Linked DNA regions of Homo sapiens. Changing the gene in region 1 together with any one later gene gives a genetic interaction. Each region holds a gene or a part of one and is shown in the gene's direction. Other genes may lie near its edges.

The links.
Region 2: changes in HDAC8 (region 1) and FUT8 together harm fitness less than expected from each alone (positive genetic interaction), as found in Homo sapiens cells (one large-scale study listed by BioGRID).
Region 3: changes in HDAC8 (region 1) and TRAPPC11 together harm fitness more than expected from each alone (negative genetic interaction), as found in Homo sapiens cells (one large-scale study listed by BioGRID).
Region 4: changes in HDAC8 (region 1) and SEC31A together harm fitness less than expected from each alone (positive genetic interaction), as found in Homo sapiens cells (one large-scale study listed by BioGRID).
Region 5: changes in HDAC8 (region 1) and ARL5A together harm fitness less than expected from each alone (positive genetic interaction), as found in Homo sapiens cells (one large-scale study listed by BioGRID).
Region 6: changes in HDAC8 (region 1) and VPS45 together harm fitness more than expected from each alone (negative genetic interaction), as found in Homo sapiens cells (one large-scale study listed by BioGRID).
Region 7: changes in HDAC8 (region 1) and SLC30A5 together harm fitness more than expected from each alone (negative genetic interaction), as found in Homo sapiens cells (one large-scale study listed by BioGRID).

The regions. Positions count from the first base shown.
Region 1 is NC_000023.11:72,565,594-72,570,128, reverse strand, and holds part of HDAC8 (histone deacetylase 8), read left to right. Parts: intron 1-1,244; coding exon 1,245-1,375; intron 1,376-2,098; coding exon 2,099-2,240; coding exon of another isoform or gene 2,241-2,244; exon of another isoform or gene 2,245-2,332; coding exon of another isoform or gene 2,333-2,372; exon of another isoform or gene 2,373-2,547; intron 2,548-4,535. UniProt on the Homo sapiens protein: Histone deacetylase that catalyzes the deacetylation of lysine residues on the N-terminal part of the core histones (H2A, H2B, H3 and H4).
Region 2 is NC_000014.9:65,418,914-65,423,448, forward strand, and holds part of FUT8 (alpha-(1,6)-fucosyltransferase), read left to right. Parts: intron 1-4,535. UniProt on the Homo sapiens protein: Catalyzes the addition of fucose in alpha 1-6 linkage to the first GlcNAc residue, next to the peptide chains in N-glycans.
Region 3 is NC_000004.12:183,665,133-183,669,667, forward strand, and holds part of TRAPPC11 (trafficking protein particle complex subunit 11), read left to right. Parts: intron 1-1,124; coding exon 1,125-1,294; intron 1,295-1,927; coding exon 1,928-1,998; intron 1,999-2,870; coding exon 2,871-2,985; intron 2,986-4,535. UniProt on the Homo sapiens protein: Involved in endoplasmic reticulum to Golgi apparatus trafficking at a very early stage.
Region 4 is NC_000004.12:82,817,538-82,822,072, reverse strand, and holds the end of SEC31A (protein transport protein Sec31A), read left to right. Parts: intron 1-964; coding exon 965-1,036; intron 1,037-2,819; coding exon 2,820-2,999; 3' UTR 3,000-3,564; downstream 3,565-4,535. UniProt on the Homo sapiens protein: Component of the coat protein complex II (COPII) which promotes the formation of transport vesicles from the endoplasmic reticulum (ER).
Region 5 is NC_000002.12:151,811,180-151,815,714, reverse strand, and holds part of ARL5A (ADP-ribosylation factor-like protein 5A), read left to right. Parts: intron 1-515; coding exon 516-576; intron 577-1,398; coding exon 1,399-1,546; intron 1,547-3,274; coding exon 3,275-3,358; intron 3,359-4,535. UniProt on the Homo sapiens protein: Lacks ADP-ribosylation enhancing activity.
Region 6 is NC_000001.11:150,090,741-150,095,275, forward strand, and holds part of VPS45 (vacuolar protein sorting-associated protein 45), read left to right. Parts: intron 1-1,196; coding exon 1,197-1,355; intron 1,356-1,561; coding exon 1,562-1,669; intron 1,670-2,786; coding exon 2,787-2,908; intron 2,909-4,535. UniProt on the Homo sapiens protein: May play a role in vesicle-mediated protein trafficking from the Golgi stack through the trans-Golgi network.
Region 7 is NC_000005.10:69,117,838-69,122,372, forward strand, and holds part of SLC30A5 (proton-coupled zinc antiporter SLC30A5), read left to right. Parts: intron 1-661; coding exon 662-791; intron 792-3,856; coding exon 3,857-4,058; intron 4,059-4,535. UniProt on the Homo sapiens protein: Together with SLC30A6 forms a functional proton-coupled zinc ion antiporter mediating zinc entry into the lumen of organelles along the secretory pathway.

The DNA.
Region 1 (4,535 bases):
GCTATGTATTTCACTTTTGAGGCCAAACCACAGGATTTCTTCCAGCTACCTTGGTGATAGTAGTAGCCTGTATAGTCGTATTCATTCATCGTAAACTCATGGCTGTGTTCCCATTCAGCAGACATTTAAAACCACTGCTGCCTCCCTGTGGCCCAGGTCAGGGCTCCTTCAACTTGAATGTGTATATGAATCACCTTAAAATGTGTCATCTTGTTTAAAAATCATCATGTTAAAATACAAATTCTGACTCAGGTCTGAGGCAAGTCTGAAGTTCTGCATTTCTAACAAGCACCCAGGGAATGCTGATGCTCCTGGTCTATGGACCACCCTTTAAGTGGCAAGGGCTAGAGAACAGTAGTGGCAGCTGTGGGGTCAAGAAGAGGAAATGGGGAATAGGCAGCTAGAGGTTAGATGTGGTAAGGCCTCTTATTGGGTTAGCTCCCTTTATTCCCTCACTCGCTTCTATTTGTCATTTTTCGTGAGGAGTAGGTTGAGAGGTTCTGAGTGAAGTCCGGTTCCAACCATTTTGCCCCTTCTCGCCTCGCTCTCAGAGGCAGATAGGAGGGTCCAAGTCTAGAAACATTACATTTTGGGTTGCCCATTTTTTATCTGTTAATAGAATGATAGTTATCCACCAAGCATTTTTGTATGTGTTATCCTTTTATCTTCACATAAGTCCCATAAAGTTCCCCATTTTACAAATAAGAAAACTGAACTACAGAACAGTTGACTTATCTGAGGTTATAGAGCTAGTAAGTACAGAATTAGGACAGGAACCCAATTCTCTGACTCCAAATCTGACTCCAAATTCAAAATGCATGATAACATAGCTGCCTATTAAAATAAAGATATAGCTGAAAGGATTAGATAGCCCAATTCGCAACTGGTTCAAATGAAAATATCCCTGCCTACTAGTTTGTCCTGAAAGTTGTAACTCACAGGGTAAAGTCTGTCTGATACCTGATTATTTGTTTAACTTGAATATAATTACTTTTGTTTACTTACCTATAAACTCAAGGGAAAATCTATCTTCTTGCCCCTTATTAATAGAGTCACTACTGTAGATGTGAGGCAGTGAAGACCGCACAGTGCAGTGGAAGAACAGAATATGTTTATTACTCCAGCCTATTGGAACCAGAAGTTGAGACGTATTTTCTTCTCAGACTGCTGGCTTCTGTTTCTAGCTTCTGGCATACGCTGGGTCTGACTCACTGACCTCTCTTTGTTCTCTCTGTTATTATTAGGATAGTTAAGCCTAAAGTGGCCTCCATGGAGGAGATGGCCACCTTCCACACTGATGCTTATCTGCAGCATCTCCAGAAGGTCAGCCAAGAGGGCGATGATGATCATCCGGACTCCATAGAATATGGGCTAGGTAAAGTCATTACCAGGCAGTGATGGGAGATGGACAGACTAATTTTTTTTATAACTTGTATGATTTTTTTAATATTTTTCGTTAAGAAATCATGTGTTAACTGTCAATCTTAATCTTTTGGTTTAGCCACATATAACTCACTAAACAAGCAAACCATATGAGTTGAGCAAAACCACATGAAGGGTTAGATGAAAGAAAACCTTTCAGTTGCTTATGCCCTACTGGCAGTGCTCAGATCTGGTCTGGCTGTGTATATGCTGATTTAGCTGTCCTGTGACCTTATATTTTAACTGGAGTACAGATTTATGTTCTGGCTAAGTTTTTGTACCTCACCCCTCATTAAACAGCTGCATTTTTTAAAACTGTAAGTGACCTGCAGGATAGTCTAGAAAAACAGCATGGTTTAGCAGAGGAACATTGAACTGGGGGGTCAACAGAGCTGGGTCCCAAGCCTGGCTCTGTGTGACCACTGACAAGACACATCACCTCTCAGGCTTGGTTTCTCTATCTGTAGCCTGTGACTAGTTCATCAGGAGGGTTTATCCTTTCTAGCTCTAACCTTTTAAAATATTATATCCCCAACATTGGAGTTGTTTCTGTCTCAGTTGGAGCTGATATTAGCACAGTGGCTTTTTAGTAGGTTAGGTTGTTGTCACACCTCAACCTATTCCTCCTCTTTTTCCAGTTCACCTTTTAACCAGCTCTTCTGATTTTTGCCCTAAGGTTATGACTGCCCAGCCACTGAAGGGATATTTGACTATGCAGCAGCTATAGGAGGGGCTACGATCACAGCTGCCCAATGCCTGATTGACGGAATGTGCAAAGTAGCAATTAACTGGTCTGGAGGGTGGCATCATGCAAAGAAGTAAGAAAATGACCTTTCTGTTTTCTGACTCTTTCCTTGAGTCAGTTTCTCAGTTATGTAAACTCTTATGCTTATTGTATTGACATTTACAGAGAGACGTGTGTGTATGTGGCACTTTACAAGGCATTCTGAAGAAATCCAAGTGAAATAGAAAAAAGATTACCTAATATAGTGGAAAGCACACTGCTCAAAGTCAGGACACCTGGGCTCTACACCTAGTTTTTCTAACTTGGCTAACTGACTTGGACTGATTACCCTCCCTAGGCCTCAGTTTCTTCATCAATAAAATGAACAAAGGATACAACTAGACAGTCTCTAAATTCCTTTTCGGCTTTCTAGAAATTCCCCTGTCTTCGAGGGACTTACAGTCTAGAAACATTAACAAAATTAGAATAGAGAACAACATTAGTTATGGTACCAATGGAATATATGTATGAGCTGAAGAGACTTATCAGTAGAAAGAAATTAATCATGGAAGTCTTGGCAGAAGTGAATTTTAGAGCTAGTTCTTAAAAGAAGTGGCAAACAGATTTTTAAAAAGGTGGAAAATTGACGCTAATAGGTTTAAAACAAAAGGCTGAAGAATCAAGAAGAGGGCTCATGCTCCTCTAATGAAAGTAGCAACCCAGAGGTAGATGTCTCTCAAAGACAAAGGGCTTGTGAAAAGGCTCTTCCTAGGTGCTTCTTGGAGTTAGAGGAGAAGTCCTTTGGAGTGTTTGTTTGTTTATTTGTTTGTTTGTTTTTGAGACAGAGTCTCGCCCTGTCGTTCAGGCTAGAGTGCAGTTGCGCGATCTCAGCTTACTGCAACCTCCTCCTTCCCAGTTCAAGTGATTCTCCTGCCTCAGCCTCCTGAGTAGCTGGAATTACAGGCACCCGCCATCATGCCCAGCTAATTTTTGTATTTTTGTAGAGACAGGGTTTCACCACGTTGGCCAGGCTGGTCTTAAACTCCTGACCTCAGGTGATCTGCCTGCCTTGGCCTCCCAAAGTGCTGGGATTACAGGGGTGAGCCACCGCGCCTGGCCACCTTCTAGAGTTTTATGTTAACATGTCAAACTGCAGTAGTCTGTCTGAGAAGGATTGCTGGGCCCTCCTTCAGCATTTGGGACTTTGTTTGATATTTCTGTAGTACTTAATCCACATTGAAGAAGAAGGATTTTTTAAACTCTGAATTTATCGATCCTCTGTCTGAGAGAAATGAAGCCACTGTGGTAGTAACTGCCAATGCCTCACTCAGGAATCAATTGTTCATGCAATCAACCGTGACCTTAGGTGCTCTTAGGTCAAGAGAAAACAACACTTTGTTTTTCAGAATAAAACACAGCACAACTTCAGCATATGCAGGTTAAGATAATAACAGAATTTTTTCCATCAAATTGACAGATTTTGTGGCCAAGGAAGTCCTTGAAAAAGTTTACTGCTAGAATTTACTAGTTGGGCAACACAGCAAAGGAAACCAATGTTTTAGTAATGAGTCTTACATGGTTTTAAAAACAGAGACAAGCTGCCTTTTGTTAGCTTTTGCTTGCTTGCCTGCTTGCTTTTTTCTTGCTTTGTTTGTTTGTTTGTTTGTTTTTTGTTTTTTGTTTTTTAATAAAGACAATGTCTCCCTATGTTGCCCAGGCTGATCTTGAACTCCTGGGCTCAAGGGATCCTCCATCCTCAGCCTCCCAAGGTGCTGGCATTACAGGTATGTGCCACCACACCTGGCCTCTTTCTTTCTTTCTTGTTTTGTTTTTTTCGAGACAGAGTCTCTCTCTGTCACCAAGGCTGGAGTGCAGTGGTGCAATCATAGCTCACTGCAGTCTCGAACTCCTGGGTTCAAGGGATCTGCCCACCTCAGCCTTCTAGGTAGCTAGGACTACAGGCACGTGCCACCATGCTTGGATAATTTTTGTATTTTTTGTAGAGATGAGGTCTTGCTATGTTGCCCAGGCTGGTCTCAAATTCCTGGCCTCAAGTGATCCTCCCACCTTGGCCTCCCAAAGTGCTGGCATTACACATGACAGCCACTGCACACCGCCTGCCTTTTTTTTAAATTCAAAATAAAGACAATGACTGCTAGGAGAAAAAAAATGACCCTCTCCCCTCCCAGGTGCAGAGTGAAAGGAGAAAGCTAAGCTTCTCTGAACGAAAGACTTCTAGGTCCTCTTGGGCTTGGCAAGTTGAGAAGAAAAGTAGTGTGGCTTCATAGAAAAGGCTTGCTTCTATGAATGACATCCAGTTTATTATGCAATTAAATTAACTGCAGAAGGCCTACTAGGGCCTGGGTCATTTTCCAGTGGAGTACTCTGC
Region 2 (4,535 bases), on another chromosome or scaffold:
CATTTAATATTATTTATTAAAAATGATTTTATAGGCCGGGCGCGGTGGCTCATGCCTGTAATCCCAGCACTTTGGGAGGCCGAGGCAGGTGGATCACCTGAGGTCAGGAGTTGGAGACCAGCCTGACCAACATGGAGAAACCTCATCTTTACTAAAAATACAAAATTAGTCGGGCATGGTGGCACATGCCTGTAATCGTAGCTACTTGGGAGGCTGAGGCAGGAGAATCACTTGAACCCGGGAGGCTGAGGCAGGAGAATCACTTGAACCCAGGAGGCGGAGGTTGCAGTGAGCCGAGATCTTGCCATTGCACTCCAGCCTGGACAACAAGAGTGAAACTCTGTCTCAAAAAACAAAACAAAACAAAAAAACAAAAACAAATTCTAACCTTCATGTGCCTCATTACTGTAATGTAAAAAAAAAAACTATGTTCATTGAAGAGAACTAACATATTAAACTAAAAATGAAGCACAGTGTTCTCCACTCATGGGAGTACTGTTAGCAGGTTTAAGACAGTTACTGTGAGAAGTTCACAAGGTGAAAGTGTCTTTGATAATTAGGGCCTAATCAATTGGGATTTGACTTACTCAATTTCTCCAACACATGGAATTGTACTGGTACCTGAAGGAGAAAAATATATAATAGAAGTTGTATTAGTTTTTATGTCTTGAGCTCTCTGAATAACTACTTGATTCATTCAGTTGCCAAATGTCAAAAGATTGTAATTTTGAGAAAGTTGATTCTTTACAATTAGAACTAAGCCAGGGTAAACAATTTGCTTTCTTTTTCTAAGTTTTAGGTTTTTCTTTCTCTCTTAGGAAGTTTAGTGAAACTCTAGGGGTTAGGCAGGTTGTAACTGAAATTCTTGAGGCCAAAAGGTCCTGTCTTATGCTTGGTAAACCGACCCCCTCAACAGCGTGAGAAATGTAGATGTACTGATAACCCTGATTGCTTCGTGACATAATTACAGACATCCAGCCCTCTATCAACTAAAATTCCGTTTATTTTTAAGGTTCAAATATTAGAAGTATCTGCTTGATACATCTCATAGGTTGTCAAGTGTGCATACGATGAGAGATATAATGTTACTTTTAATTTGTAAGTAAACAAACACACAATATTATGTTCTCAATGCTGAGTAAGCTGAAAAGATGTATACCTACTGAGGATGCACCAAATAATAAGCAACAGAAACCTGGTAATGTGCAATTAGGAATAGTTCCTCTTAATAATAATAAAAAAAAGATTAGTGTTTAGGTTTTAATGGCATAAAGATGTAATGAAAATAAAATTACCAAAGAAGTCTATTTTGGAGAAATTTTTGTCAGACTAGATAACAAAGAAAAGAACACATCCTTTTTTTATTTTTATTTTTTATTTTATTTTAGAGATGAGGTCTTGCTCTGTTGCCCAGGCTGGTGTTGAATTCCTAGGCTCAAGTGGTCCTCCTCCCTTGGCCTCCCAAAATGCTGGGATTACAGGTGTGAGCCACCAAACTTGGCCAGAACACATCCTCTATATGACTGTCTACAGAGGCTTAGAGTAGTACAGAAGTACCTGAAAGGAAATAATGATAAATAATGAAAATGTTTTAATAGGGATCATGTGTTCATTTCTACATGTATATCAGTATAGTACCTATCGTTTGCTGTTTCTGCTTGTAAATGCACGGTTGGAAAATAAGATACCCAACCTTTGGAAATTATTCAGGGAAGTGCATCTAAAGTTTAGAGAAAAGTTGGTTTCTTCATATTTTAATGACACTTTTCAGCACGTATAGTTCACCCTTGAACAGCACTGGGTTTGGGGCACAGACCCCCATCAAGATGAAAATCCACATGTAACTTTTATCTCCTCAAAAACTTAATTACTAATAAACTACTGTTGACTTCCAGCCTTACCGATGACATAGTCAACTAACACATTGTACCTTATATGTATTATATACTGTGTTCTCAAAGTAAGCTAGAGAAAAGAAAATGTTATTAAGAAAATCATAGGCCGGGCGCCGTGGCTCACGCCTGTAATCCCAGCACTTTGGGAGGCCAAGGTGGGCGGATCTTGAGGTCAAGAGATCGAGACCATCCTGGCCAACATGGTGAAACTCCATCTCTACTAAAAATACAAAAATTAGCTGGGCGTGGTTGCATGTGCCTGTAGTCTCAGCTATTCAGGAGGCTGAGGCAGGAGAATTGCTTGAACCTAGAAGGTGGAGGTTGCAGTGAGCCAAGGTTGTGTCACTGCCCTCCAGCCTGGCGACAGAGCGGGACTCCATCTCAGGAAAAAAAAAAAAAAAAAAAAAATCATAAGGAAGAGAGAATATATTTACTCTTCATTAAGTGGAAGTGGATCATCACAAAGGCCTTTATCCTCATTGTCTCCACATTGAGTAGGCTGAGAGGAGAAGGAAGCGGAGGAATTCGTCTTGTTGGTCTCAGCATGGTAGAGGTGGAAGGGGGAAGGGGAGGCGTGAGAGGCAGGCACACATGGTGTAACTTTATGGCAATACGTCATACTTCTGCCTTTTTTGCTTTTTCATTTCTCTGAAAACATTTCCATATGGTACCAATCCTTCTTCCACCGTTTGCTTTAGTTTCAGTGCCCATATCAGAGAAGGGTCCATGTCATGAAGGAGTCAAAAGCAGTCTTGAACAATCAGACAGTCTTCTGCCATATCGTCTGATGTCATTTTGTTTTCTTGCATTCCTTCTACATTACCTGGTACTGGATTGGAAGCACTTACCGAGTCATCTTTTTAAATTCCTCTTGTGTGATGTCTATTTCTTGAATTTCTCCAAGATTTGTATCTTGAAACCCTTTAACCCACCCCCCCCTTTTTTTTTTTTTGCCATATCCACAGTCTTTTTCGTGATTTCCTTGATTGGCCCTGTGGCAAATCCTGTGAAGTCATGCACAACATCTGGACACAGTCTTCTCCAGCAGGAATTTATTGTTTCAGGCTTGATGGCTTTCATGGCTTTTTCCATAACAACGACGGCTTCTTCAGTGGTGTAATCCTTCCAGACTTTCAGGATGGTTTCTTTATTGGCATTCTCTTTCATAGAGTTGACAGTACTTTCTGTAGTGTACTGTGTCCAGTGATCCTCGTGACCCCCTGATTTAGAAGCTGAATTAGAGACATTTTGTTTGGGGGCAAGTAGACTACTTCAGCACCTTTGGTGTTGAACTCATGGGGTTCCGGGTGGCCAGGGGTATTGTTCAATAATAAAAGAACTTACAGGCAAAATACTTCCTGACTTCAGGGACAAAGCATCAATGGAACCAATCCAGAAAAAGGGTTCTCATTGCCCAGGCTTTTTTTGTTCTATGACCAAAAGACTGGGAGCTGGTGTTTATCTTTTCCCTTCAAGGCTTGGGGGTTTGTAGCATTATAGATAAGGGCAGTTCTGATCATAAACCACACTGCATTTTCACCAAACAGTAGAGTTAGCCCATCCCTTCCTGCCTTTAATCCTGGTGCTTTTTCTCTTCCTTACTAATGAATGTTTTTTATGGCATTGTTTTCCAGAATAGGGCACTTTTGTCTATATTAAAAACTTGTTTAGGCGGATATTCTTTCTCCATATTTCTTTTTTTTTTAAGAGATAGGGTCTTGCTCAATTGCCCAGGCTGACATGCAAATGGCATGATCATAGCTCACCGCAGTCTCAAACTCCTGGACTTAGGCAGTCCTCCTGCCTCAGCCTCCCGAATAGCTGGGATGCAAGTGTGCACCACTATGCCTGGCTAATTTTTAAATATTTTTTATTTTTTTGTAGAGACAGGGTCTCACTGTGTTGCCCAGTCTGGTCTTAAACTCCTGGCCTTAGGTGATCCTCCCACCTGGGCCTTCCAGAGTGCTGGGGTTACAGGTGTGAGCCATTATGCCTTCCCCCAGCTAATTAAAAAAATGTTTTTTGTAGAGGCAGGGTCTCGCTGTATTGCCCAGGCCCAGGCTGATCTTGAACTCCTGGCCTCAAACGATCCTCCTGCCTCATCTTCCCAAAGTGCTGGGATTACAGGGATGAGCCACTGCACCTGGCCTCCTCAGTGATTTTCTTTCTTTCTTTCTTTTTTTTTTTTTTTTTTCGAGACTGAGTCTCGCTTTGTCACCCAGGCTGGAGTGCAGTGGCGCGATCTCGGCTCACTGCAACCTCCGCCTTCCGAGTTCAAGTGATTCTTCTGCCTCAGCCTCCTGAGTAGCTGGGACTACAGGTGTACACCACCACGCCTGGCTAATTTTTGTATTTTTTGTAGAGACGGGGTTTCACCATATCGGCCAGGCTGGTCTCGAACTCCTGACCTTGTGATCTGCCCACCTCGGCCTCCCAAAGTGAATGATTTTCTTTCTTTTTTTTTTTTTTTTGAGATGGAGTCTGGCTCTGTCGGCCAGGCTGGAGTGCAGTGGCGCAATCTCTGCTCACTGCCAGCTCCGCCTCCCAGGTTCACGCCATTCTCCTGCCTCAGCCCCCTGAATAGCTGGGACTACAGGCACCCATCACTACGCCAGGCTAATTTTTTGTATTTTTAGTAGA
Region 3 (4,535 bases), on another chromosome or scaffold:
CCCCGAGGCTGGAGTGCTGTGGCGCGATATCGGCTCACTGCAAGCTCCGCCTCCTGGGTTCGTGCCATTCTCCTGCTTCAGCCTCCCGAGTGGCTGGGACTACAGGCGCCCGCCACCACGTCCAGCTAATTTTCTGTATTTTTAGTAGAGACGGGGTTTCACCGTGTTAGCCAGGATGGTCTCGATCTCCTGACCTCGTGATCTGCCCACCTTGGCCTCCCAAAGTGCTGGGATTACAGGCGTGAGCCACCGTGCCAGGCCTACATGATTATTTTTCTTTAGTGTCATGTTTGTGTCAAGAAGGCAGGGAGCCCAGCACAAGCCCTCTTTTCTCTTAATGCTCGAATTCAAGCTGCTTTTCATTTCTCTATTCCCAGCTTTTGGCTGAGTCCCCATGTTATTTTGTGTCAGACTTCCTTATTGACCTCATCTTTCCTTGCTGGAGGTAGACATTGGATCACCATGAAGTGGAGTAGTCTGAGCCAGCACAGCTGATTTGGAAGGAATGTGAGGTTTCAACTGCATCCCTCAGGGCTAACACTCAAATCTACAGCATCCTCTTCCCACTCTGTGGCACTCAGTGCCCAGACTCAAGTGGCTGCTGTGAAGCTTCTGTTTAAGAATTGTTCTCTGCTTTGTACTTCATCTACAAGTGAGGTGAAATGCATCACAGCAATATGTCTTTGAAATAAACAAAGCCTATTGGATTTTAGATAATATTTTATTTGAGCAGTTTTACAAGAACAGAAGCTGGAATGGTGAAGAATATAAGTAGAATTTACCTGGAAATGGGCTACTTTTTTTTTTTTTTTTTTCTTTAGCAAAGTATTTGAGACCCTTGACATCATTAGACATGCATCATCGTTTTATGCATTCAGTTATGGGGCTGATAGAAACTCTTTGGCTTCAGTCATTCTTTAAATGGGAAGTATAGCTTCTCCAGGGTTGAGATTCCACCTTCAACACTTACTAGTTCTTACTGAATCTGTAAGCCTGAGTTTCCTAATCAAAAATGGGAGGTGTGTATATTGAATGAGATCAATGCACATAAAGTGCTTGGCACTCAGTAACAGGTGGTTTCTGCTCCTGTCAGGTAACTTTTCAATTTCTGCCAATGTTTGCAGAGAACTTCATATGAGTGGTACATTCCTAAAGGGATCTTAAAGACTGGCTGGATGAATAAGCATCTGAATCTGGTGCCAGCCCTGGTGGTTGTGTTCTATGAACTGGACTGGGATGAGCCTCAGTGGAAAGAAAAGCAGTCTGAGTGCGCCACCAGAGTGGAAATAGTCAGGTATGATCTTCTGTGTCAGGGCAGCTATGTCAGTTTGCACATGTGTGTTATTCACTAACATTCCTTGAAGGCAATGGAGTACCGTTCAGACTGCAGTGGTCACTTTGCGGATTGACCTCCAGTGAATCTTGTTCACTTCCTCACAGGTAGCATAATTATTGACTGTATATAATGCTGGGTACGTGAAGAAATTTAGAAGACTAATTGGTCTGAATTTCCAAATGTTTTTCTTGTATTATCTTTTTTGGAGACATAGTAATTTACTGTTTAGTCTCTTAAAACGCTTTGCTTTATCACTGTTTAAGTTTCAAATAATTAATTCTTTTGGATGACTACTCTGCAGTGTATCACCATAAAGAAGTAAGTTGCATTATAACTTTTACGTAAAAGTATACATTAATCTTTTGCTTTTAAGGAAGATTTTTAAGATTAGAAGATGTGAGATCATACTTTTAGAATTTAAATCATTGTGACATATATGTGCTTTGTGTGCAGGAAAAGATTTCTTCTGATCTTGGTTTTTTTAGTTGAAATTTATCTTCGGTTGAATGACCAAGGTTGTATTTTATGTGAAGTCATGAATACATTTTTTAAGTTAAAATAATTAATTTTATTCTTGCTTTTTCATTGCAGGCAAAGTTTACAAGGAAGAAACACAAAAGTTGCAGTGGTTCTGATTCAGAAGAAAACCCCTTTGCCCCCAGGTATCAGAAGTCTAATTAATGAATTAATTGTTTTATACCTCCAATTCTTATTAAAGGGAGATAGGGGTTTTTTGGATGTTTAAATCTTTTATGCATTCAGTTATGGGGCTGATAGTATGTTAACTTTAAAAAGCACCAATGATACATGAACAAATGCTTATTGTAAAAAATTAAAGATAGTGAAGAATGCAAATCTCAAGTTCCCCTAGTTCCCCTGTTCCACTTGTCTTCTTATGTAGGGGATATAGGAAGGCATGTTCAATTCACAAAACAATTCGCTTGAATTTTTTTACAAGAGTATAATTTTTTTTGACTTCCAAAGCTTTCCAAAAAAGAATATAATTTACTTATCTAAGATCTATTTGAAGCTGTATTCCTTATATGAAATTTTTTCATTAATTTTCTGTAGGGCAAAGAAAAAGGCTATAGGATTTGTAGTTTTCTCTTGGAAAATGTCTTAGTTTCAGATTCTTATTTCCACTTTCCCAGACTTTTGTAGACCAAAATATATTTTTGTTTCTGTGTTGAAACTTATAGCATCCAAAATGGTTTTGGAGACTTCTTTCATGAATTATTGCTTCCAGTTTTAGTTATGTTTTTTGAAATAGTTATGTGGTATATCTGTTGGCATTACTTGGCCACCTATCCTGGCTCAGTAGAAAATTCCACAGTGTTTTCCTAAAAGGCATATACTGTGTAACCTCTAAGAACCACACAGAGCTCTCAAGGAGCCCAGGAGTCCTGTTGGTGTGATGAAAAGCTGTTTGGGTTTTTATTCCTAATTCTATTTTTTCAGACTTGGGGAAATATTTATTTGGGAAGCTACATTAGTTATTTTATTTCTCATTCATCTTGATGGGGATTATCAACAGGAGAAGATGTCATTGCTTCAGAAAGGGCTGCAGCTTTATGCAATGCATGTGAACTCTCAGGAAAGTCTTTGTTTGTACTGCCGCACACTGACCACCTTGTGGGTTATATTATAAGGTAAGTAGAGGTCTTTTAAAGTTTTGTTTTTTTAGATTATTAAGAATTGAGAAATTGGTAGCTTAGACCCATTTATTTTTTTAAAAAATCATGTTCATGAAAAACATTCATATGATACAGAGGCTATGGGGTAAAAATAAAAGTCTTTTTTGTTAAATTCTTAACCCTCTCCAATTCCCTGAGGTAACCAGTATCAACAGTTGCTCAAGTTTCCTTCCAAAAAAAGTCTTTTTGTATAAGAACAAATATATGTATTTCTTTATAGTATCCATACCACACACACAAACACAAAAACATAAATGTGCTCATATGATACACAGTGATCTTCCACTTAACATTACCTCATTAACATGCTTCCATATGTGCATCTAGGTCAACTTTATTTAAAGAAACAAAGTTTATATGTTTCTCCATTATACTTTCCAGTAATTACCCATGTCCTTGAGTGACATGTATGTCCTTTTTTGTGAGAGTGTCTCCATTCCACTCTGGCCTGTTTTTGCTTCATTCTTGAGCTGTCGATGTATCTATGTCACTAATTTCTTAGGAAGGTGTGAGCCCTATCATATCTTAAATATTTTTATAAAGCCTTTGTGTATAAAGGGCAGATTACCTGGAGACACAACATTACCTCAAAAATCATGTGGTCATTATTCATTGTTTTGTAGCATTTATTGTCACACAGAAGTTTTGTAGTAGTACATTTTATGCTAGGATGTATTTAGATATGAATATTTTCATTGATTTTGACTGTAAAATGGTTTTCCTTTTCATTCTGCATAAGTGTCCTTCGTTAACTCATGAACAGTTTTATTTATTTTTGAGTATTGCTTCTCTTGCATTTGTTTCTTTCTCAGAAGCAAACCTCTGAAAATGATCCGCTGCAGGAGGTTACCTGGCCTTCTCACTGGTATATAAAAGACCAGGCTTCTAAGAAAGAGAAGCATACATTTAGCAGAGAACATGCAGAGGAATAGGATCAAATGAAAAGATGAATTGCAAAGAAACTTAAATGCAATTAGCAAAATAAATCTTTACACTGGAAGCAGTAAACAGTAGAATTCACACCACAGAAAATCAAGTCCATGGTGCCCAGGGTAACATTGAGATAATTGCTTAGAATTCAGAGGAAAAGAATAAATGAGTTTTATTCCTTAAATGCAGACATATGAGCAATAGGGAACAGAGAGAAGAGAGGGGCAGCTGGTAGCACACTCAGGCAGCTTTTCTTTCCACTGAGGCTCATCCCAGCATCACACCTGGCCTCAGCTCTCCAGGCCTGGACAGCTCACCATTGACTCTGCACTTCAGTGCTTTCCTATTCACAGTGCTGTTCCTTGTCAGATGCTTTCATAGTCATGCCCACCTGCCAGCTCTCCTTTTCTGGGCTCTCTCTTACTCAACATTTAAGGCTTCAACGAAGCCTTCATTAGAAAGCTGTTGTCCTCTGTGCTATACCCTGCTGTAATGACTCTTCACTGAGCAGCATTACCTTCCAGAGACTATTTGGCAATGCCTGGAGACTTTTATGATTGCCATAACTGAGGGGG
Region 4 (4,535 bases), on another chromosome or scaffold:
GAATAGTTTCTTTGATTATACTTTACAGTGCTATGGTAGAGAGAAAAAAAAGCTTTTTAATTTAATAATTTATTTTACTACTTCCCTCAGTAATCTTAAGCTGCCAAAAGATAGTTTTCTTTCTTTCTTGGTGCTTTAAAGGCTTAGAAAAAGGCAGGATTAAACAAATGTAACTAAGTGTTTAAGTAGTATTTTTGAAAGGTTAAAACAAGATTCCACAGTTCACCTATATGTTTGCCTTCTACCACCCATAATCGACAATAACTACTTAGACCTTCTTTTTTGTGATACACTGACCCATTGCTGCCTCCTGATGCTTGTGAATATAGTGCAAGCAAACATGCATATATACCTTATCAAGTGAGTTTGCAGTTCATATGAAATCCAATCAGTACTCTTTCATGCACTGGAAGTAAGTCTCATCCTCTCCTCATCCCAGTCCCCTCCACCCTCCACCCTTGATAGATGATTGATCTCTGTTCTAATAATCTGTTCAAGTTTCTTTTTTTTTTTTTTTTTTTTTTGAGACGGAGTCTTGCACTGTCGCCTGGGCCTGGAGTGCAGTGGCGTGATCTCGGCTCACTGCAACCTCCACCTCCTGGGTTCAAGCAATTCTCCTGCCTCAGCCTTCCGACTAGCTGGGATTACAGGCGCCTGCCACTACGCCCAGCAAATTTTTTGTATTTTTAGTAGAGACAGGGTTTCACCATGTTGACCAGGCTGGTCTCAAACTCCTGACCTCATGATTTGCCTGCCTTGGTCTCCCAAAGTGCTGGGATTACAGGCGTGAGCCACCACGCCCGGCCATAATCTGTTCAAGTTTCTTAGTTGTAGTTGCCTCCATTTCTTTATAAAATGAAGCCATTCAACATTTTAAGTATAAGGTTTAGTGCAATGAGATAGGGCAAGTTCTTAGGTTAAAAGTTAATGTTCAAATATAACATCTATTTTTTCTTTCCTGCAGCAAACCAAGAGGAAGCTAGATGATGCCAGCAAACGTTTGGAGTTTCTGTATGATAAACTTAGGGAACAGACAGTAAGTTTTGGAGGAAAAGGATTTATGATAATCATTTATTCCTAGTTGCTAGTAAAACAGTTGTCTTATCAGCACTCCCATTTAGTATGCATGGGGGCAAAATTGTCATGACATTTAGAGAATGGGCATGGCTGTGTTGAATCATAAATTCCACTCACTGGGGTTAAGGGGATACGGGTGTGTGTGTGTGTGTTTGTGTGGGTGTGTTGAGAGAGACATTTTAACCCTCTCATAACAAGAGTATAAATACAAACTGGCCTGTGTTGGCCATAAGGTAGCTGACCTTCTGCTGTTCCTTTTATATGGCCCAGTTACAAGAAATCAAAGAGTATGCAGATACTCTGTTTTCCAGGGACTAAATCTATAATCTTTATCATAGTCTAAGACTCTTGACCCTTTTCTTTTAGGATAGCCATTATACAAAAGCAAAGCCAAATGTAGCCACAAGATGAATAGGGTAATGTGCTGTAACTATGAAGATAGCCAGGAGTAAGAAGTCAGTTCACTACGTTTGTTCTCTTGTCCCCACCTCACCATTCTTTTCTAAAATTGTCTTGTTTTATTAATGAAAGCACTAGGAAAGGAGAAGAAAAAAAGAAGTGGGACTTTCTTTTTATTTTTTCCATTTCAGCATTCCTCTAACCCATTCCCCACACTCAGTTCCATCAGATGAAAATAACCATTTCTCTCATGAGAACCAAACTAAAGAAAGTTGATATAACAGTGGAAGTAGTGTGGTCCTTGGACTGATCCAAAATAAAGTCTTCTCGGTGGGCACAGTGGGATATGCCTGTAATCCCAGCTACTGAGGAGGCTGATGCGGGAGGATCACTGGAGCCCAGGAGTTTGAGACCAGCCTGGGCAACATAGCAAGACCGCATTTCCAAAAAAAAAAAAAAAAAACAGAAGATACAATTAGCGTATACATCTAGATGAGTATATATTAAAACATTTTTTAAAAATGAGATCAAAATAGGCCAGGCATGGTGGCTCACGCCTGTAATCCCAGCACTTTGGGAGGCTGAGGCGGGCAGATCACCTGAGGTCAGGAGTTTGAGACCAGCCTGGCCAACATGGCAAAACCCCGTCTCTACTAAAAATACAAAAATTAGCTGGGCATGGTGGCACACGGCTGTAGTCCTAGCTACTCAGGAGGCTGAGGCAGGAGAATCGCTTGAACCCGGGAGGCGGAGGTTGCAGTGAGTCGAGATCGCACCACTGTACTCCAGCCTGGGTGACAGAGTGAGACTCCATCTCAAAAAAAAAAAATCCAAATAAAGTCTTCTGTAAAGTATGGACACCTATGCCAAGTAATGACATAGTAAAAAACTACAGGTTTTATAGTTTTAAGAGATGACAGGATTATAAAAAGCAGGTAAGAATTAGTAAATTTGGGCCCTTCCTTTGAGATATTATGATTAAGAATCTTTAATCTCCTTTTTGTGCATAGGAGAATTTTTTAAAGGTCTGAAGCTCTCTTAAGTGGAGAGAGAAATTAGCATTTCAGTTTGGAGAGGAAATCGGGCTGCTTTTCTGTAAGAAAATACCTGGCTTATACATGTATAATTCATAAATAACTTATTTATGTAAATCATTTTGTTGTGGTTGTACTTGATAACTGTTGCTTGGTTCAAGAAACTTTCTAGAAATGCTAAATGGTTTATATATTTTTATAATGTTTGTTTCAAATTCCACTTAAATATCTGGGTTTAATGTTTATGGAGGATCTCATGGGAAGTTATCCCTTAATTTAATTCTTTCTCTTGGTTCACTTTTGTTTCAGCTTTCACCAACAATCACCAGTGGTTTACACAACATTGCAAGGAGCATTGAAACTCGAAACTACTCAGAAGGATTGACCATGCATACCCACATAGTTAGCACCAGCAACTTCAGTGAGACCTCTGCTTTCATGCCAGTTCTCAAAGTTGTTCTCACCCAGGCCAATAAGCTGGGTGTCTAAAAGGACAGCTTCTCTTCCACTCAATATTGCCATTTTTCCAAAGAAACATGTTAAAAAAAAAAATTATAAGACATGGACTAGTCCTCATTAGCATGTTTGCATAGCAACCAGTCAAGAGCATTTACACTATTTCTGCTGATATACTCACCTTAGAACTGCTCAGAACCCTGGTGCTTTATTTTTGTTTTAATCTTTTGTTGCCAGTGATGATTTTCCTATTCTGCAAATAGTGTATTTCCTGGATTACACATAGTATGGTTTCCTGAAGTATTCTGATAAATGTGTTTTTTAAAACCTCAATATACTTTTTAGAAAAGGAGCATCTGGTTATGCATAAAGCAGAGCTAAAACTAAATTTCTTTCATGTCCTCCCTACTTCCTCAGTGTCAATCAGATTAAAGTGTGTAATCCTATTTTATGTGTGTATAGTCTTTTTTGAAACAGCTGCTTAAAATTTAGTTTATTTTTTGTGTCTTAGGATTCCTGAGTAAATAACTACATCTACAAACTGCTACATGGGTTTTAGCAGATATTAATAAAAATGGGATCACTGGCTTTAACTATATAGGAAAAGACTGGACATTTTTGTTCTGTAGAATGCATTGAGCTTTTTTCTATTTGTAAATGTTTCAATATTCTGTTTGAGTTTTAAGACTAAATTGTGTCCATTTTATAGCTAGAAATTTTTTCACCTATTTTGTTTAAATTACCTATAGCTGTGCCAGGCATGGTGGCTCACGCTTGTAATCCCAGCACTTTGAGAGGCCGAAGCAGGCAGAGGTCGGGAGTTCGAGACCAGACTGGCCAACATGGAGAAACCCTGTCTCTACTAAAAGTACAGAATTAGCCGGGCGTGGTGGCGCATGCCTATAATCCCAGCTACTTGGGTGGCTGAGGCAGGAGAATTGCTTGAACCCGGGAGGCGGAGGTTGCGGTGAGCCGAGATCACGCCATTGCTGTCCAGTCTGGGCAATAAGAGCAAAACTCTTTCTCAAAAAAAAAAAAAAAAATTACCTGTAGCTTTGAGGTTTAAGTTCAGAAAGAAAGCTTTAATTTCAGTCAGCCTGTAAATCAAAGCCACACATTTTGCACCCAGTTTTTCTGTCAAGTGACTTTATTATCATCTGTCTTAAGAACAGTGTGGTAAGGCCGGGCGCGGTGGCTCACGCCTGTAATCCCAGCACTTTCAGAGGCCAAGGCAGGCGGATGACCTGAGGTCAGGAGTTCAAGACCAGCCTGACCAACATGGAGGAACCCCATCTCTACTAAAAATACAAAATTAGCCAGCCAGACGTGGTGGCACATGCCTGTAATCCCAGCTACTCGGGCGGCTGAGGCAGGAGAATCGCTTGAACCTGGGAGGCGGAGGTTGCAGTGAACCGAGATCGCACCATTGCACTCCAGCCTGGGCAACAGCCTCCATCTCAAAATAAATAAATAAATAAAAGAACAGTGTGGTAAACAAAAAATTAATGGTCCCTGTAGAATCTGGAGAAGAGTTAGATAATAATTTTCATAGTTTATGCAATATTCCTT
Region 5 (4,535 bases), on another chromosome or scaffold:
AGATTTGTTTTTCATGTTACAGTGGCCCTGTGGTTTTAAGGTACTCATAATTTACGATTACCCATTTAAAAAACTGACCTTTTTCCTTCCCATTCACTCCACTCCACACACATGCACCCAGTTGATGCCTTAAGTTCCAGTTAGAACCTCATTGATGTAATCCAATGTGAAACATTTATACTTTAAGTCATTTGTAAATTGTGATTATGTTTGGTCTACTTTACTGAGAGTAGGCTTGCCTAGGAATAGAGGAAATGTAGTGCCATGGCTTCCTAGAGAGGTGGTTGGAAAGATGAGAGTTGTCTCTAGAATAATGGCGATGGGGAAGGTGAGTATAATGGCACACTTCTGCTGGTCTTGCTAGGATGTTCTTTTGACTTCTGAGAAAGTATAAAGTGCCATGCACTGAATTATGCCATAGATAGAAGGGTGAGATACAGAGTATATTTTTTCCTATAATTAATCTTTTTTTTTCCTTTTTTGAAAAAAAATCACTGGTGTTTTCTCTATTTCAGAGCACAAAGTTATCATTGTTGGGCTGGATAATGCAGGGAAAACTACCATTCTTTACCAATTGTAAGTATTAACTATTTTAAAAATTATTTTATTTCTAGTTACTTTTTTGGCCTGGGTGATAGTCGATCAATGAATGCAGTAAGAAATTACATGAAACCTAAGTTACCCTGTAAGAAAGCAGGTTGGCTATAAACCTGGAGCCAGATCTCAGCAATAGTTAGTAGAAAGCAAGAAATTTATATGATATTGAGCATATAGTTGGCATTGAGTTGTCCACTTGTTTTGTGCTAAAGCTCTTTTGTTTGTAGAAAGTAGAAAAATATGGCCGGGTGCGGTGCCTCATGCCTTTATCCCAACACTTTGGGTGGCAGAGGTGGGAGGATCGCTTAAAGCCAGGACTTTGAGAAACCGCTTGGGTCACATAGTGAGATGCCATCTCTTTATAAGATATATATGAATATATATATATTTTAAAATTAGCTGGATGTAGTGGTGCACACCTGTAGTTCCAGCTACTCAGGAGACTGAGGTGGGAAGATTGCTTGATCCTATTCAGGAGGTCAAGGCTGCAGTGAACCTCATGCCACTGATTATGTATGATCACACCACTACACTCCGGCCTGGGTAACATTAAAAAAAAGAAAGTAGAAAACTATAAAGTAGAAACTATAAAGTTTCCTGGAATGACCTAGTATATGCCAGATAGCCTACGACCTAGTTCCAGCCCTGTTTAAACCCTCACTCATGTTGTAAACTAGTGGGAAAAAGATATTTAGGTATAAATTATAAAAGGAGGTCATGCTGATTTGTCCTTGATTAAAAAATTGTTCAAGCAAGTTAGCTTCCTTGCTAATTGTAATGTATATAAACTTTTTTCCCCAGTTCTATGAATGAAGTTGTACATACATCTCCTACAATAGGAAGTAATGTAGAAGAGATAGTGATTAATAATACACGTTTCCTAATGTGGGATATTGGTGGCCAAGAATCTCTTCGTTCTTCCTGGAACACTTACTATACTAACACAGAGGTAATGTTTCTTACAATATTTAAAATTCTATAAACAGAATGCTTGGAAAACATCTAGATTTGAGTCCTTATAGTTAATCTTTTTGAAATATCACAGTATGTTAATACATAGAGAGTTTAAGCAGAGTAAAATCTGATTTCCTATTCCAAGGTCATTGTTCAATATGTCCACTATCATTGAACCTCTATAGGGAGAATTGGTGGTTAATTATGTTCTGATTGTGTATTGATCTCAGAACTTGTCTTTAATAGTTTTTTTTAATGACTTCCATCTCATAGTTTATAATTTCATTTCTCTCTATTTATGTTTGACTGAGTTTAGCTCACCAAATGAGAGGGTTTTGATGGTTTGAATCCTAGCCAGTTTTACTATTTTCTTTTACAAAACACAATTGCACATTAAATAATTGTTTTTCTTTTGATTATAAGGCATTTTAGACATAGTCATATCTTTTTATTTACACATTATTTCCCAAAGGAAATTTCAGACCTTTGACATTTGAGTGCTTCATTGCATAGACCTGTGAATTAAAAGACTGACCGTTGTTTTTGTAGTGTTCATTATTACAAGTTAATAAAGCATGGTTTATAAGTATATAAAGCTGACTTTTAAGTCATTAAGAAACCATTAAGTGTATCTGACAACTTGATTTCCTAACACTGCATTAGGCATTTAATCATTTTTTAATAAGGGAAGTTATGTATGATTATAAAGGTATATATGCTACTGTATACATATGCTATAGGTTTCAAATTCATGCCAACAGCCTGAAAATTAACAGTTTTATTAAAATACCTTGGAATAAAATGGGCCTTACAGTGATAAAGCCACCTATCAGTAAGCTGTCAAGTGAGAGGAGAGGTAAAGTAGCAGTTCTCTCATACATCTGCCTTTTGGTTGATGAAGTCTGAATAATTGAAAAGATCCAGAAAATCATAATAATTTATTTAAAAATTAAGATCTAGGTCCCAAAAATAAATAGTGCATGTTACTAATAGGCAGTCAGAACCAACTTGGGCATCATAAATGTTATCATAAAGTAAGTAAGTTAAATCTCCATCTGTTCCTGCTGATCTCTTGCTTTTGGGTGCTCACGGAGTTGAGGAAGAGCTGGGGTGGAGCTCAGTCCTGCACAACAATCACAAGTCTTTCATCGCACCTTCTGATACCAGTCTCATCATCAGTTTATGAAGGGGTTGTGCTTGCAGGTAGCAGGCGATACTTATGTAAGGAAGAGAGCTTGTTTTTAGATAGAGATTTATTCTTTCAGTTGGTTGAATTTTTTTTTAATTGATTTCTTTATCTTGTCACATTACTTTACTCCCATACCCGTGCCCTTTTAGGTGTTCAGATTGATATTAATAAATAATATCTACCTGGAAGTAATAAATTCAGGATCATATTGCATGTTTTTCTTGTTGATTTGTAGTGCAAATAGATAGATATAGGTCCATTAGCATTCAAGATACTAGTTTAGAAAACAGACATGCGTTATATATATTAGTTAGAATGTTAATATCATATTCTCTTTTCTCTTAAAAATTAGTAAATATATTAAAATCGATCAGACCTTTTGGCTTCACAATGTATAGGTAGCTCTGATTTTCCAACAATACCATAAGATTCCAATTTCTTGATATTAATAGCCTGTATGTCAAATAAACACATTATAAATTTTACAGATACCAAATTGTATAATCACTAATAATTTTTTTGTAATTATTTTAGTTTGTAATAGTTGTTGTGGACAGTACAGACAGAGAGAGGATTTCTGTAACTAGAGAAGAACTCTATAAAATGTTAGCGCATGAGGTAAGTAAGTAGTCTTTTTACATTAGATATGGGGAAGGGTATGGGAATCGATACTTTGTTTTCTAGTTTCTCATGAGGGTGCTATCAATTTCAAATTTTTAAAAATAATTAGTTATTTGCGGGCCACACTGCTCAATTACTCTGACATCTCCCAGTTTGGAAGTGTATCCAGAAGCAGCAGAAAGATTATGGAGTAAGTTGCAGAACTTTATTTCACTTATCCTAGGTACATTTGGTTTCACAATTTTCCTGGGCAAAAGTAATTTCTATAAGTGGCTTTCATTTTGCATTTTGAATAGATTAATTATACAGAGGATTATCATTGGAAATGAGATTTTAAAGTACCTGGGTGCTTAGCAATTCTTGATTGTTACTCAGCAGACTAATATTTAAATGTAATTGCTGTTAGGTTTCTCTGATATTGTCCCTTTGACTAAACAAAACTAGATGACTAGCCACATTTTCTTAGTCCTTGAAAAATAACCTGCCAGGCACAGTGGCTCACTCCTGTAATCACAGCACTTTAGGAGACTGAGGTGGGGGGATCGCTTGAGCCCAAGAGTTCAAGACCAGCTGAGCAACATGGCAAGACCCTGTCTCTACGAAAAATAAACAAAATTAGCCAGGTGTGGTGGCATGCACCTGTAGTCCCAGCTACTCGTGAGACTGAGGCGAGTAGATCGCTTGAGCCCAGGAGGTCAAGGCTACAGTGAGCTGTTCTTGCCACTGCACTTCAGCCTGAGTGACAGAGTGAGACCTTGTCTCAAAAAATAAAATTAAAAATAAATAAGTAGAAATAAAAATAGATTTAAAAATTAAAATTTTTTAAATAGAAAAATATTACGGTAACATAAATTTAAAAAACTGAATAATATAGTCAACTTGATAACTATAACATTATACTGTTTATATAGTATTTAGTAAAATTGATTATTTTTGGATATCTTATTGCAGATGCTACTTTCTCAACTCATTTATAGATAGGAATAGAAAAGTTAATATTTAGATATATAGAGTTTTTTATTTCAGTGGAATTTTTTGCAAAGCTTAGGAAAACACGGATATCTTTGTAGTGAAGTTTTATGTTAATTTTGTTATTGATTTGATGATTTGCTTTTGAGATTTGCTTTAAGAATTTTGTGTATTTCAGGCAACCTTTCAGGGCTTTAGGGAACCT
Region 6 (4,535 bases), on another chromosome or scaffold:
TACTTTGTCAAAATTAAAAATACCATATGGAGACAGCTTTCTTCATCAATCAGTGTTTGATTGTTATTTTGTTTTGTTTTGCTTTTTTACACAGTGCAATATATTTGCATCCTTTTTATTTGCACTTGCCCTTTCCCCATATAGCATAACACAGTGGAAAGTGCAACAGTTCTTGAAGCTACAAAACCAGATACTTCTTGCAGAACACACTTCTGTAGGATTATCATCTTTTTTTCTTAAGGTATTGGTAAGGCTTCCCCTTTAATCATAAGAAAGCCTATCCATTCTGGAAAAATTACATGTGAACCAATATGCCTTCTGTGTTAAACTGACACCATTTCCATATTTATCCATCTCACAGAACTAAAGTACATTAAAGAAACATGTATATAGCAGAATAAATTATATTACTTTGATCATCCTTCACCCCATTGACTGTGAACTCACTGGGGACAGGAATTGTCTTTAACTTATCTGTGTGCCTGCAACAGTGCATGACATACTGCCTTATGGGGACTCAAAAGTATTTGTTGACTTGAATTAAATTATTTGTTCTGCTGCATAATAAATATAAATCTATACTATATGGAAGGTCCTGAATATGAGGATTAAAAAATGTAAACATGGCTTCTCCTGGCCCCCTTTCCTATCGGTACCTGCCTCTTAAAATCATTAAGTACTAAATCTAGAGATTACATGCTATTACATACTCATCTCTGTCAACCATGTTGAGACATGTTCTGATGCTTCTTAGAGATCAAGCCCAGTCTGTGTAAAATTCTACCAACTTGTCTCCATTTCACTGGTCAATCATTAATACTAAGAGAAAGCAGTAGGTTTTGCAAATCAACTAGTCAGTTTTGTTGTGCCGTATTGATTCAAGTCGTGGAAATAGTAAGTGTTCTTTCAGCAAGGAAATTACAACTTCAGCTATTGGAAAAGAAAAGTGGAACTATCCATTATTAAATTCATTTTTGTCCTAAAGCAATTACAATGGAAATATATTTCCTTATTTAATTCTTACCTTGGACAAAAGGCATTTAATTTTCTATAGTTGAGACAGTTGCTAAATGTATGACTTATAATTGTCATAGTAGTGATGTATCACTACCATTCAATAATTATTAGATCTAAGGCATTGTACAACAGATGACTCAAGTGAAAGGGGGATAAATATAAGTTCTATCTTTCTTCAGAATATAAAAAGGCTTCTGCAGAACCCCAAAGTGACAGAGTTTGATGCTGCCCGCCTGGTGATGCTTTATGCTTTACATTATGAGCGACACAGCAGCAATAGCCTGCCAGGACTAATGATGGACCTCAGGAATAAAGGTGTTTCTGAGAAGTATCGAAAGGTAACCAGTTTCCATATTAGCCCACCAAACAGGAACCAACTCTGTTATTATATTCTTAGCTCTAACGAATGATAAATCATACTATTTTTATTTACAGAAATGTATAATTCTGTCTTTTCATTTTTGTTTCCTTAATAAAATTATTTTCTTATGAAATGGGCTTCCTGATGCCTAAGCAATCAAAATTTGCTTCTCTTTCTTAATAGCTCGTGTCTGCAGTTGTTGAATATGGTGGTAAACGAGTCAGAGGAAGTGACCTCTTCAGCCCCAAAGATGCTGTGGCTATCACCAAACAATTCCTCAAAGGACTGAAGGTATAGACATCTCCTCTATGCTCTCCTGAGTGAGAACAGTTGAAGTCCTTGAGGCTGAGAGTGAATGAATATGATCTTCAAAGTATCTTGAAGATTGCTGCTAATTTAGTACTGTGTCAGTTAAATGAAATTAAAACTGGCATCCTCTTGAAAGCTTTTTCTTTTAGTGCTTTCTGTCTTAGAGCCGTATCAACATTGGACCAAATAGCTTAGCAGGAAATAACTGGAGGTATTTCCAGGAAATAAGAAGAAAAAGACCAACAGTTCTGTTAGTCACAGATATTTTACACCATTTGTTTATAATTAAAGATTTTTTAGGTAGTTTCTCTTTGAAGGAAATTAAAGATGAAGCAAACTTTTGATCTTTTAAAAATACTAACCTGTTTTCTTAAAATACTCAAAAATTAATTCTAATCTGCTAGCCTTTCTTTTTTTTTTTTTTTTTTTTTTGAGACGGAGTCTCGCTCTGTCTCCCAGGCTGGAGTGCAGTGGCGTGATCTCGGCTCACTGCAAGCTCTGCCTCCCGGGTTTTACGCCATTCTCCTGCCTCAGCCTCTCGAGTAGCTGGGACTACAGGCATACACCACCTACACCCGGCTAATTTTTTTTTGTATTTTTAGTAGAGATGGGGTTTCACCGTGTTAGCCAGGATGGTCTCGAACTCCTGACCTTGTGATCTGCCCGCCTCGGCCTCCCAAAGTGCTGGGATTACAGGCGTGAGCCACCGCGCCCGGCAGCCTTTCTTATGTTTCCTGAAGTTTTTCTATTTTCCTGGGTATTTTCAGTCTTTTTTATACATAATCCTTTCCTTTTATTTGCTCTACCTATCATTTAACATTTCACAAAAGGGTGAGAGACAGTGAAGACATGATTAAGGATTTAAGCAATTCCATTTTTAAAAAATCCTTTACAATAACTAGCCCTAAATTACAGAGTAATTTTTATGAGATTAGAACATTTCTAGCTGATTAAAATAATTTTTAAATTTCCCACAGTTACGTAAATCTATCCCATGAAATCTCTATTGAGTGTATGTCCTTTTCTGATATGAATATTATTAATTCTTGTGTTGCCAATTTCCCAAAAATGACATAAGAACCATTTTCCCCTGTTTTAGGGAGTAGAAAATGTATATACACAGCATCAACCTTTCCTACATGAAACCCTGGATCATCTCATCAAAGGAAGGCTTAAGGAAAACCTATATCCTTATTTAGGCCCCAGCACACTCAGAGACAGGTAAGCTAACAAAGATATTAATAATAAAAGCCAGAAATACTGAACAAACAGAAAATTTAGAGTAATGTTAAGGACTAAAGCTGAGGTTATAGCATTCTGCTGCTCCTTTCTTCTGTTAAGATTCTTTTGGTTTTACATATGTCAGCATTAGATATGAATTCCCCTGCTAAGTCTGAAACATTTATTTCTTTTGTACTAAAGAAACAAGTGTTTTGGAGAGCCTCAAATCCTTCTGTATTTCAGTATCAGACCAGTTTACTTATGCCATTTAAGGTTCTGTTCGATGGCATCTGGCATTTGGTGTTTCAAACATTGAGGCCAAAAATAGGCTTGCTGCTTGATTGCCATCCAGAGCAGGTTGTTACTATTTTTGGTGAGGACTGGACTTTGCCAAATGTTGCCAGCACACAAACTGAGAGACCTAATTAATAAAGGCCATTTGTTACACAGGAGCAAAGGATGGCTTTCTTTTTGAGTATTAACTAAAGGAAGCAATAATTGTCATCTTAATCCAGTGGTTAATTTTTAATAAAAACAAAACTTGTCCAGAACAACTTATTTAGGCCAACCTGAAATTTTAAATACTGTATACATAAATTCTACCTAGTTAAAAATTATATATTTTTTTTGTTGGAACACATGTTATCTAAGGGGCTAACATATATACTTGAATCCTATTGGATAGATTAATGTGAAAATTTTACTGTTGACATAATTCTTCTATTATTTCAGTTAATAAACATCTAAGAGCCTTGGAAGTATAGTGTTTTATAAACATAATGAGATTCTGAATGAGAAAAATGTTTTGAGATACATAGGTGATTCTTTTATGTGATAAAGTGTATTTTTTCACTTTGTCCTTTAAAAAATTTTTTTCTGTAATTTGGTACAGAACAGAAAAAAAAATCATCTTTTAAAAGTCCAAGGTTGAGATGCAGAACATTTGGTGTTAAATTCAGAGAGTACACTCATTCAGATAAAATGTTTAAAGACCTTGGGATCAAGATTCAGAAATGTCAGCTAAGTGGGAAGAATGAACGCCAGCCCAAAGTTATGCACCTATCTGAGAGGCTTTTTAAAAAACAACTATTCTTGAGCTTTTGCATTAATGTGATAAATAAAAACATTTATTTGCTTATGAATTTTTATAAGAATTACTGAACAAGGAATTATTTATTACCAAAGGGAAACCACAGGCCACCGGAAGAATATACTGTATATGATCAGTACACAGCAGGAAACCTTTCTAATTTACATAATTCATTCCCACACAAAGCTCAAAATTATATTCCTTGAACAAAATGCACATTTATCAGTTGTCAACATCTGTTACCATTTGTCACTATAACCTAAGTATGCATATAGTTAATAATTCAGTTGCTTTGTCCTTTTACACAACAGATGTTGATTGAATGCTTTCAGTATGTTAAGAGCTGTTGTAGATGCTGGCGATATAGAAGTGACAGGAAAGACAAGGTACCCGCCCTCAAAGAACTTACATAGAGACAATGAGTAAACAAGTAAACAAATGAAGAATATAATTTTAATAAGTGCTATCCAGGAAATAAATAGGGTGATGAGCTTCAAAGTAATTGTAGGGGTGGGGAGGACTACTTTAGATGGAGAG
Region 7 (4,535 bases), on another chromosome or scaffold:
CTGCACTCCAGCCTGGGCAACAGAGTGAGACTATGTCTCAAAAAAAAAAAAGACAGGGCCAGGTGCGGTGGCTCACGCCTGTAATCCCAGCACTTTGGGAGGCCGAGGCGGGCGGATCACAGGGTCAGGAGATCGAGACCATCCTGGCTAACACGGTGAAACCCCGTCTCTACTAAAAATACAAAAAAAATTAGCCGGGCGTAGTGGCAGGCACCTGTAGTCCCAGCTACTCGGGAGGCTGAAGCAGGAGAATGGTGTGAACCCAGGAGGCGGAGCTTTCAGTGAGCCAAGATCGTGCCACTGCACTCCAGCCTGGGTGACAGAGCAAGACTCTGTCTCAAAAAAAAAAAAAAAAGAGAGTAAAGAAGGACTTTGATGAATATATAACATTTTAACAAATGTATATATTCGTTAAAATGTTATATATTCATATATAACGTATATATATTCATATATAACGTGTATATATATGTGTATATATATATATGTATATATATATGAAGGACCTTCCAGGCATTAATATGATATTTAAAATATTGCTAATTTTCTATTATTAATTACTTAGTAGTATGAAAATTTGGACTTGTTTCCTCATTTATAAAGTTTATACTTTAAAAATATTTGTCCTTTTCCTTTTCTGAAAAATGTTCTATGTTTTTAGGTACGGCCGAATAGAAATTCTGTCTGGATTTATTAATGGACTTTTTCTAATAGTAATAGCGTTTTTTGTGTTTATGGAGTCAGTGGCTAGATTGATTGATCCTCCAGAATTAGACACTCACATGTTAACAGTAAGTCTTTTTATTTTCCTATTTGGATTTCTAGTCATACTTACATAGTTTTTTCTATCCTAAAGTTTAATTGTTTGCAGTTATTGCTCTAAGAAGGTTTTATTTTTTACTTATATCAACATAACTTCCTATCTTGCTGTTTACATTTATACTGCTCCCTCTTAGAAATTCTCTTTTTTTTTTTTTTTTTTTTTGAGACAGAGTCTCTGTTTTCCAGGCTGGAGTGCAGTGGCATGATCTCAGCTCACTGCAGCCTCCACCTCTCAGGCTCAAGCGATTCTCGTGCCTCAGCCTCCTGAGTAGCTGGGATTACAGGCATGTGCCACCACCCCCTGCTAAATTTTGTATATTTTGTATAGATAGAGTTTCGCCATGTTGGCCAGGCTGGTCTCGAACTACTGACCTCAAGCAATCCTCCCACCTTGGCATCCCAAAGTGCTGGGATTACAGGCATGAGCCACTGTGCCCGGCCAGCTATAGCAACTTTTAATGTTCTCCCTGTACCACCAAAGCTTTACATGTGCTGTTTCTTGTAGTTGGCATGTCCTTTCCTTACTTCTGCCCTTCAGCCTCCATCAAGATTTTGCTTATGTGAAATACTTTTTTTCTTTTCTTTTTTTCTTTTTTTTCAAGCAATTCTCCTGTCTCAGCTTCCCGAGTAGCTGGGACTACAGGCGCCTGCCACCACGCCTGCCTAATTTTTGGAAATACTTTCTTTTAATCCCCCTCTTCTCTCCACAAAGTTTGTTAGATTCCTTTTCTCAGTATTCTCATTATGTTTTGTGCATTCTTCTTTTAGCAACATTGAGTTGCAGTTGTTTAATTTGTCATTCTTCCACAATTAAGATATGTAAGTATCTTCAGGACCTGAATTACATATTATTAACTCTTAAGTTCAGTTCTAGCACCTGGCTTGTCGTAGGAAATCAGTTGTTAAATGACAAAAAGCAGCTCTGGCTCTTGCTGGTGGAAGCATACATGAGTAAAATGTTTCTATAATACAGTTTGGAAAAATAGACTTTTTTGGATTTTTTAGTGCCTGTATCCTTTGATATTGACTATTTATCATACATAAACATTCACACAAACATATAGAAGTACATGACTCTGGCCGGGTGCAGTGGCTCACGCCTGTAATCCCAGCACTTTGGGAGGCCGAGGTGGTTGGATCACCTGAGGTCAGGAGTTTGAGACCAGTCTGGTCAACATAGTGAAACCCCATCTCTACTAAAAATACAAAAATTAGCCGGGCATGATGGCGCACACCTGTAATCCCAGCTAGTTGGGAGGCTGAGGCAGGAGAATCACTTCAACCACGAGGCAGAGGCTTCAGTGAGCCCAGGTTGCACCAACTGTACTCCAGCCTGGGTGATAGAGAGACTCTGCCTCAAAAAAAAAAAAAAAAAAAAGTAGTACATGATTCATTGTACCCTTATTTATAATAGTGAAAAAATGGAAACAATTCACTGTCCACCAGTGAAAAAAGTAATTAAATAAATTTGTTATCTATATAATAGAATATTACAGAGCTATTGAAAAGAATGAGATATATCTGTATATACTGGCCTGAAAATATTTACGAGATGTACTAGTGAAAAACAAATTGCAGGCCATGCATGGTGGCGGGCGCCTGTAATCCCAGCTGCTTGGGTGGCTGAGGTAGGAGAATTGCTTGAACCTGGGAGGCAGAGGTTGCAATAAGCCGAGATCATGCCACTGCACTCCAGCCTGGTTGACAGAGCAAAACTCTGTCTCAAAATGAAAAAAAAAAAATTGTAAAATAGTATTATGATTACATTGTTGGTTTTAAAGGGTGTTATGTGTATGTATGTTAGTACACAGATGGAAAATACACCATTTTAAGCGTGACTAACCCTTGGTGGTAGAATTATAGGGGACTTTCATCTTCTACATTTTTATTTTCCTGATAAAATACACAATGATGAAGTATTTTTCAGTAGGGGAGAAGGAGTACTTATGAGATGATGGAGTCTCTGTAAGCAGTACTTGGTTTCATTCAAAGTCATTAACCATCTACCAGCTTATAAAGCCTAATGAAATTTTAAAATCTGGAGTCAAATGGTCCGAATCAGGAAGAAGTAAATAACCTCCCTACACATTTAATAAAGTAAATCTCTTACTACTTTTGAAAAGTAATTAAAAGTATTTGTCCTTCTCATATTTATATTTTCCTTTTATAAAACAAATGGATTGCTTTAAATTGTAGATGTAGGCAAATTAACACCCTGAGCTACTACTATTCAAGATCATTTTGTAAGAGCAGATAATCAAGGATAAGTAACTTTGTTTATCCTTTGGAGTATTATTGTGGCACCATTAAATTAAAGTAATTTCATTCACTTTGTTAAGAAAAAAATGAGAGGCCAGGCATAGTGGCTCATGCCTGTAATCCCATAATCCCAACACTTTTGGAGGCCAAGGTGAGAAGATCGCTTGAGCCCAGGAGTTTGAGGACAGCCTGGGCAACATAGACCCTGTCTCTACCAAAGAAAAAAATTTGTTTTTAATTTAAATAAATGCGAGATTACTATTGTATGTTTCCTTTTTATTATACTTGTTTTACTTTGGAAAATTTTACTGTGTTTAAGACATAATAAGACCATATTTGGAATCTGCTCATTAATAAATTATAATTGTTGGCATATAAACTGTTCAAATTTACCTAGCAATATAAAGATTTCAGGTACAGTGTATACTTGCCCTAGTAAGCAGTACTTTCAAACTCTTCAATAAACAAAACAAAACTTTGCATCATTTATTTATACATAAACCATAAACCAAGTACATACCATTCTTAATTGAAATAAGTCCAAATTCCTCTACTTACCAATTCTGCTTGATATTTGAAAGTTAAAATGTTTCTTCTAAAATGTTCTAAAATTCACATTTTTAAAATTTTGGACTTACTGAAACTTAGTAAGGTTTTACTGTGAATACTTTCAAAACTGTAAACAGAAAAACATATATAGCTATATAATAACTTTTAAATAACAAGTCTATTTTTAAATTACTAATTTAAAGGTTTTTTTTCTCCCTTTTGCTAGCCAGTCTCAGTTGGAGGGCTGATAGTAAACCTTATTGGTATCTGTGCCTTTAGCCATGCCCATAGCCATGCCCATGGAGCTTCTCAAGGAAGCTGTCACTCATCTGATCACAGCCATTCACACCATATGCATGGACACAGTGACCATGGGCATGGTCACAGCCACGGATCTGCGGGTGGAGGCATGAATGCTAACATGAGGGGTGAGTCCTTGCAAAATATTATCCTACTTTTCAACTGTGTTCTAAATCAACCCTCTGTGTTTATTTGTATTAAGTTTTGGGCTTCTGGTATGATATGATTTTTAAAAAGCAATCTGTGACTAAAAGAAAGGTCTGAAGCTATCACTATAGAAAATATTCTTACCTGAATACACATAAAATTAAATATTATTCAGCCTTTAAAAAGAGGGACATTCTGGCTGGGAGCATGGTGGTTCACGCCTGTTAATCCCAGCAATTTGGGAGGCTGAGGCGGGAGTACCACCTGAGGACAGGAGTTCAAGACCAGCCTGGCCAATATGGTGAAACCCTGTGCCTACTAAAAATACAAAAATTAGCCGGACATGGTGGCAGGTGCTTGTAATCCCAGCTACTCAGGAGGCCGAGGCAGAAGAATCGCTTACAGGTGTGAGCCACCATGCCTGGCCGTCACAGAAAATTTTTTAAAAAGAAAATGAG